Linked DNA regions of Homo sapiens. The protein of the gene in region 2 purifies or fractionates together with the protein of the main gene of each other region. This does not show direct contact. Each region holds a gene or a part of one and is shown on either strand. Other genes may lie near its edges.

Region 1 (3,500 bases), on a different chromosome or scaffold from region 2:
GTAGCACAGTGCCCAGGCACTGGGGCAGAGGTGGATCCCGTAGTCCCTCGGTGGGAGCTCCAAAGCCTCCCGTTTTCATCTCTTCCTCTTCCCAGGATGGGATTTTGGGGATGAGATCTTCCTGGTGGGCTGGAGTCTGTCCCAGAAGTCAACAGCCCAACCTGGGGCCAAAAAAGACCCTCTTAGATAAGGCAGGCCCTCGGCAAGACTCCAGCCACACATGAGAGGGTGGAACAGAGCTCCTGAGTCCCACTAACCACGGCCACCTGCAGTGGTCAGGTGGGGGCACCGTGTCCATCCCCCCATGGGTTTGTGCCAATTTGCATATAGGTATGTAGCTTCCTATTGGCGACTGTAAGAAATTGCCACAAATTCAGTGGCTTAAACCAACACAGCTGTCTTACCTTTCAGTTTTGGAGGTCAGAGTCTGAAACCAGTTCACTGGGCTGAAACCAAGGTGTTGTCAGGGCTGGGTCCCTCTGGGACTCTGGAGGAGAATCTGTTTTCTTGACTTTTCCAGCCTCTAGAGGCTGCCGCTTCCCTTCGCTCAAAGCCCCTTCTTCCCCCTTCAAAGCCAACGGTGTTGGACAAGTCCTCATGGTGCCATCTTTTGTCCTTCGATTTTAAGGCTTTGTGTGGTTAGAAGTGGATCATCTCCCATCTCCAGGTCCACAGCCTGAGTCCCAGCTGCAGCATCCCCTTGCCACGTAAAATTACGCTTGTGGGTTCCAGCTGTTGTGCCGTGGACATCCTTGGGGCCATGGCTCTGCCCACCACAGTTTGTCCATGTGCACGGCTGCACATGTGTACATATGCATGGGAGTCTTACTTTGCATTAATGGGATTGCCCTGTGTCTGAAAGTTCCTCTTTCCTTTATCCTGCATCTCAGGAGTCTCCATAACTCCAGGGAGATGCTCTGCTCTTCGTGTTGTTCTGGTCTTTTCCTCAGCCCTTCCTGACTGAAGCACTCGCAGGTATTTCTGCTTCTCTGTATAACAGATGACCCTGCAGACACCTGCTCAGCCCCGACTGGCGGGTTCATCGCACAGCCTCGCCTTTGTTTATCAGACACCAGCTGAGCCACCCCACCTGTGCCTGGCGTGGGTTTTGGGTCAGCGCTGACGGTGGAGAGATTGAATGTTGTAAACGTGTCCGAGTGTCAACAGGAAGTCTCCACCCGGGGACAGGGGCCCGTTTCTTAGGTTGTTTTTAGCCTTCCGTGGGGGCTCTGCAGCCTTGGGATTTGGTGGAGGTGTTTGTTCTGAGGCCGTTTTTCTTTGATGCCAAGATGTCCCCCCGGGCACTTCACTGCGTAAGTGCTATGGTGTGATGGAGTGATGATGGTGGCGCACTCTTCAAGCTCTGGATCAGGTTCCGGAAGCTCTGTGTGAGTCTTACTGAGGTGGTTATTTTCTCTTTTCCCTGGAAAGTGGGCTGAGAGCACTCCATGTGGGCACGAGCGGCCCTGGCTCTGCAGGACTGGAGGGGGCTGTGCTGGAGGGCGGGGGGCTGGCCAGGCAGCCTTGGATCTTGTCCTCAGGAGCCCTTCAAAGGGGCAGCAGAGACTCCAGGCCCTGTGCCCCGAGGAGTCAGGCTGGGCTGGTTCTGGGGAGTGTCTGGAGCACCTGATGCTGAGCACAGGCGGGCGTCCGTGGAGTGCACGTGTCTGAGGGTCTCTGAGGGGTTTGCCCTTTTCTTCGGAGCCACGGTGGCCGTGAGGGATGCAGGACATTGGGTGTGGCCCTCGAGGACTGGCCTGTCTGGAGCCCACTCCCCCGTGGGTGAACGCGGCTCTTGGTGGAGAGCCCAGTTTGGGGAGAAGGGACGGTCTTGTCCTGGGAGGTGTCAGACAAAGCCGAGCATGGGACTCACAGGAGACCCCCAGTCAGGCCGTGTCAGGGTGAGGCTGGGAGTGAGGGTCCTGGAAAGTCCGGCTTCTGGGAGAGGGCGCTTTGGCTCAGAGGCTGCCACTGCAGAAGGGATGGACGTCCCCGGTCCCCTAAGATAAGGGACCCAAGGGGAGGGGCGGGGACGTTCCACACTGGTGTGAGAACAGCGGAGAGTCCCAGCCAGAGGTACCCGCTGCTCTCCTGCGGGGAGGATGCTGGCTGCACTGTCTGTCCTGGGCATATTTAAAGGGGCCTCTGTTAACACACACAGGCCTCCAGAACCATCCACACTTCTGGCTGGCCTGATTCCTGAGGGGGAAATGGTCTTTAAAGAAGCAAGCACCTTGATCCAAAGGGAGGTGGTCCAGCAGGAGGGGCCGCCCCACCATACCCAGGAAGGTTGAGCTCTCGCACCCGGGAAGGCTGAGCTCTCGCACCCGGGAAGGCTGAGCTCTCGAAATGGGGTTCAGGCATTTGCTGTTTGATTCCAGGACATCTGAGACAGCTGGGCCTGTACCTCGGGGAGTGGAGGCTGCGCCATTCTCTGCCCATCCAGCATCTTAGGGCCGGGCATTTGGAAGCTGGCTTCTGAAGGGAGCCCCCAGGAGCTTCGTGGAGAGGAGACGGGACAGCTTTGGAAAGGGCGTTGCTGTCACTGGGGTCCCTGGGGCCGCCGGTGTAGCGTGCTGGTACCCTCCAGCCCAGGAAGGTGGCAGCTGCCGCATCTTGCTTTCCCAATGACGGAATGTTCTAGGAAGGGTGGTGGGAGGTTTCTCCAAGGTGAACGCGGGGGCAGCTGGGTGGCTGGCACGGCCTCTGGCCCCCAGGCCGAGTCCTGTTTCCTGATCTTATCACAGCCCCAGCTTGGACATGTGGGACCAGGCACTTCTTATGAGAAAAAGGATCATTGTAACAGCTGCCATCTGGATGGACGATCATTGTAACAGCTGCCATCTGGGTGGACGGCGGCCTCTGTCTGAGGGGGATGTGACCGCTGGCCCCCAGAGCCCAGGCTCAGCCCGTTGGGACCCCTCTGCCCCTGGCCCAGACTGTGGCTGCAAAGCCCGGGCTCTGCCTGGCACGGCAGGTGTGCTGGGAAGTCACTCTGAGCAGGGTCTGCCCTTGAGTGGGTGCTGCCCCCCTCCCGTGGGCAGGAAACGAGGTGTGAGAACTCTGGGCACCGGGGCTGCGTCCTGGCTTGGGCTCCCTGGGCGAGGGATGGACAGGGCTCCTTCTGACCCTGGGCTACTGAGTCGAAGTGAAGTCAAGCTCCGCCTGGGCAGGAATGAGTGGAGTGAGTCACCCGGCGCTGTGGGGCATTTGCACGGAGCAGCGGGGCTGGTGGGGAGACTGTGGCACGTTGGCAGGTACGTCAGGCATGCAGCCCCTCCAAGGGGTGATTGTGGCCCCGAGGGGAATCAGCATGGGGGGGATGGGGAGATACAGCTTGTCCTTGCCACATGAAGCACCTGGCCCAGCAGGTGAGCCGGTGACCGACAGCGCTGGGTGAAATCCCGCACCGTGTCCTCAGATGCCACGTGGAACCCCAGCTGAGGCAGCCACTCTGGGCGACGCCCCGTAGCCGAGGCTTCGAAGAACACTGGGGTGTG
Region 2 (4,230 bases):
AATCAGAACACCAGCTTTCTGGAACCATCTGAAACTGAGCTGGGACCCCTGGTGACCCCTTCGTGCCTCACTGATCAGGACTGAGGGTCCCTCTGGCACCTTCACAGTGACTAAGAGAGTCCAGAGCTGCCTGGATCTCAGAATGCTGCATTCTGGGATCCTCACTTTCTTGTACCACCAAAAGCTAACTAACCTCTCTGTGCCTTAATTTCCTAATCTATAAAAGGCAGAATAGGGCTGGGCGTGGTGGCTCATGCCTGTAATCCCAACACTTTGGGAGGCCAAGGCGGGCAGATTGCTTGAGGCCAGGAGTTTGAGACCAGCCTGGCCAACACGGTGAAACCCGTCTCTACTAAAACTACAAAAATTAGCCGGCTTGGGAGGCTGAGGCAGGAGAATCGCTTGAACCTGGTAGGAGGAGATTGTAGTGAGCCAAGATCGTGTCACCACACTCCAGCCTGGCCAACACAGCAAGACTCCATCTCAAAAAAAAAAAAAGAAAAACAAAAAACCAAGTCCCTTTCAGGTCTGAGTCTTCAGCCTCTTCATTTCCATAATAGTCTCTGCACACAGTGGGTGTTGAAACAACATTTAAGGATAATCACCACCACCTACCTCCAACACACTGCCAACTCCCTGATCTAAGACAGAAATACTTCTCCAGGGAAAACAAATGCCACAAATAACTTGAAAAGTAAGGTCATAATTGGTGGACAGATATGTGATAAAGCAAGTAAAGTGTCAATAGTAGAATCTAGTTGGTGGGGATGGGGATGCTGACTGTATAATTCTTTCAACTTGGCTGTATGTGGGAAAATCCTCAATAAAATGCTAGGGGAAGACGAAGGTTTTTTTTTTTAATTGTCACTTTCTATAGTGTTAAATATAAGTTAGCCTTCAAAGATAGCTCAGAGGCCAGGTGCAGTAGCTCATGCCTGTAATCCCAGCCCTTTCCGGGGCTGAGGTGGGAGGATCGCTTGAGCCGAGGAGTTCAAAACCAGCCTAAGCAACACAGGGAGACCCCATCTCTGTAAAAATAAAAAGTTAAAAAAAAAATTAGCCAGGTGTGGTGGCACATGCCTGTGATCCTAGCTACTTGGGAGGCTGAGGCAGGAGGATCACTTGAGCCCAGGAGTTTGAGGCTACAGTGAGCTATGATTGTGCCACTGCACTCCAGCCTGGGCAGCAGAGCGAGACCCTGTCTCAAAAAGGAAAACAAACAACAACAACAACAACAACAAAACAAAGATAGCTCAGAATTCACTGGATAAGCAAGCAGTTTAGCTAGACTCAGTCTGCAGGTTGAGCTCAATGAAAGGAGATTTTGACTTTCCTTCAAATAAATGACTAAGCACTAATTTCCTCATAGACATCATTGAATCTTCTGGGCAGTTAATGGGAGAAGACTCTGCTACAGTGAAAGGGAGGGGTGGGGGGTTGCTGTATTTACAAACTCCCTTCAGAGTAGAGACCCAGGCACCTGTCGTCACTTCCTAGCTACAGTTGACATCCGGTAACCATCCTTGGTCAGCCACACTTTCTTTCTGCCTCTGCCAAGAGGCTCCCCCTAGCTCCTCATGGGCCACTTTCTGGCTGTGAGCTGATCAGGCAACTTACACAGGGTCACTGGGTCAGAGGACTCTTGAAAGGGGGGTTGGAACATGAAGCCCCATGATTCAGGGATCCTGGGACTTGTTTGTTTTGTAGGGTTAGAGGGATGGAGGAAAATCTTCCAAATCAGCAGCCTCGAATTCACCAAGAATTTCTACAAGATGAATTTGAGTTGAACCTTCAGTCTTTCCACGAAGAAGGTCTGCTCGCCACCCTCAAAGCCATCTGCCTTTCTGTCTCAGTTTATTCACAGATCCTTTCAGAGACCAAAAAAAGCACCCAAGAGAGGCGGGGACAGAGATGTGGTAGAGGAAAAGACACAGTACAAAGAACGCTCCGCAAGCACTTACTTCCTCTGAGCCTTAGGAGTCCTACCTAAAAGGTTTCTTGCTTGTTTTTCTATTACACTGTCACTCCCATCCGGTATGCAAACAGTCGGCAATGCCTACTACAGTAGCTCGCTGGCTGCCAGGTGCAGGGGCTGTTCAAAAGCGACATCAGGGTCCTAAAAGGTGGGAAAAAGCAGCAGAACTTGCATGGTAGTTGATTCTTTCCTGAAGAATAGGGTCCGCCCAGCCCCACCGGGCAGGAGGTGTCCTGAGTCAGCCTGGCGTTCAGCCCAGTGCTGTGCACTTGGGTGACAGGTGGGGCCCCTGCACTGCCACCAGTAGCATATGTCGGAGCTCTGGGCCCTGACCATCTGCCAAAGCTAATCTTACGACAAGCAGATTTGCTCCCATCAATACCCAGGGAGAGGGATAGGCAGGCCCCTTGCTGCGTGATTCTCGAAAACAACCAGGATCCCGCGATCCGCTTCTCCTATGGCTCCAGTCCAAAGGCTGGAATGGGGGCGTCACCTGCACCAGGCAACTTCGCTAGCCTGTGGGCGTTCCAGGGCAGGGGACGGGGGCGGCACCTTCCAGGTGTGCAGGCGAGATGACAAGTGCGGTCCCTCCTTCCTCCCTCCCCGCGAGCAAACAGCCTGGGGGTGGTGGGGAAGGCGGCGTGCCCAGCCCTTCATCGCCCCATTCTTTCCCACGGCCCTGGCCGCCGCTGCAGCTGGGGCGCCACTCTGCACTCACCTGGGCCCGCGCCGGGCGGGGCGAAGTCGCGGTGGTAGGTCCTCGGCGTCCGGGAGGAGCGGACCGGCCCTCCCGGGGACCGGGCAAGAGGGTGGGCCGGAAGCGGCATCAGGCCCCGTGCCCATTGGCCAGCCTCGCCAGGACGCTGCGACCTGGGACGTGCGATTGGCTGCGGTGCGCCGCGTCGGTGCTGGCTTCGAGGTCGCGCGCCCGCCCACTTCCGGGGTCGCGCCAGGTCAGGAGTCCAGAGTCGGCTGAAGCGAGTTGCCGCGTTCTCTCTGGCGGCGCGACACCGGCCCGTGGACCGCCCGGCCGCCCTCCAGGACCCGGTCTGCAGGAGCGGAGAGGGCGGTGTGGACACCGCCTGCAGGCGAGGAGAAGGGGTGGCGGAGAGGGTACCTGGGTGCGTGGCTGTGCGGCGTCAGGAGGAGCAGGGTGTGGGCGCCCGGCCTGGGGCGTGGAGAGGACGCAGGGAACAGGTGTCTTCCTGGTATCCATCGAACTGAAACGTAGCCCTTGAGCACACACTACACTTAAAGCTTTACTCTTTCGAGGAGGAGTCCTGGAAGCATATGTGATTTTGTGACTATAGCATGGTGTGGTGTCAGTAACAGGCCCTGGATTGCTCAAACTCTATTGTCAGTGACAAAACCCAGTGTAAGCTGGCCTAATATATTAATAGTAATATGCGAGTCCTCCCGGGGTGGCGGGCACTGACGTAAGTGCTTTACTTGGGTCTTCTCATTTCATCCTCCCAGCAACCCAAAGAGCTGGCGGCGTCATTCCCATTTTACAAATGCGAACACGGGCTCAGAGATGGAGCGACTCACGTTGTAAGCGATGGAACTGGGATTTGAAAACACTGTATCCCGCCTGGCAGAAAACTGGCAAGGTTAGGATGGAGAAAGGAGAAAAAAGAAAGATGTCGGCCAGGTGCGGCGGTTCATACCTGTAATCCCAGCACTTTGGGAGGCCAAGGCGGGCGGATCACTTGAGGTCAGGGGTTTGAGACCAGCCTGGCCAAGATGGTGAAACCCCGTCTCTAGTAAAAATGCAAAATTAGCCAGGGGTGGTGGCGCATGCCTGTAATCTCAGCTACTCGGGAGACTGAGGCAGGAAAATCGCTTGAACTGGGGAGGTGGAGGTTGCAGTGAGCTGAGATCGTGCCACTGTGCCACCGCACTACAGCCTGGGCGACAAGAGCAAAACTCCTTCTCAAAAAAGAAAAAAAAGGGCATCTGATGGAAGGCTAGATACTACCCGACATTGAGCTAAACCAATGTCACCTGGTTGGACCTAGGGACCTATTCCTGCTCCCCCTCTAGTTCTGTCTCATTTCTGGGGTTGCACACAGGCTTTTCCTGGGCCTTCATGTTTGGGGAAGCCCCACACAGGCCAGCTCCAGTGGAAGAAAACGCCCCCAGAAGCCTCTTGTTCACCCCGGATGGCTCTGTGGAGTCCTGTGTCTGACCCTGACTTTAGCTTGGGCCTGAGGGACTGGCATTTGTGGACTTGGTCTGGAGATGTGGGCAGAGCC

The links. Proteins that work in one complex are often made in the same cells at the same time.
Region 1: the proteins of TECPR1 (region 2) and COL18A1 purify together in Homo sapiens (affinity purification with mass spectrometry; one large-scale study listed by BioGRID and IntAct). This does not show direct contact.

The regions. Positions count from the first base shown.
Region 1 is NC_000021.9:45,464,165-45,467,664, forward strand, and holds part of COL18A1 (collagen alpha-1(XVIII) chain isoform 4 preproprotein), read left to right. Parts: intron 1-3,500. UniProt on the Homo sapiens protein: Probably plays a major role in determining the retinal structure as well as in the closure of the neural tube.
Region 2 is NC_000007.14:98,249,433-98,253,662, forward strand, and holds the start of TECPR1 (tectonin beta-propeller repeat-containing protein 1), read right to left. Parts: upstream 2,801-4,230; 5' UTR 2,694-2,800; intron 2,117-2,693; 5' UTR 1,962-2,116; intron 1-1,961. UniProt on the Homo sapiens protein: Tethering factor involved in autophagy.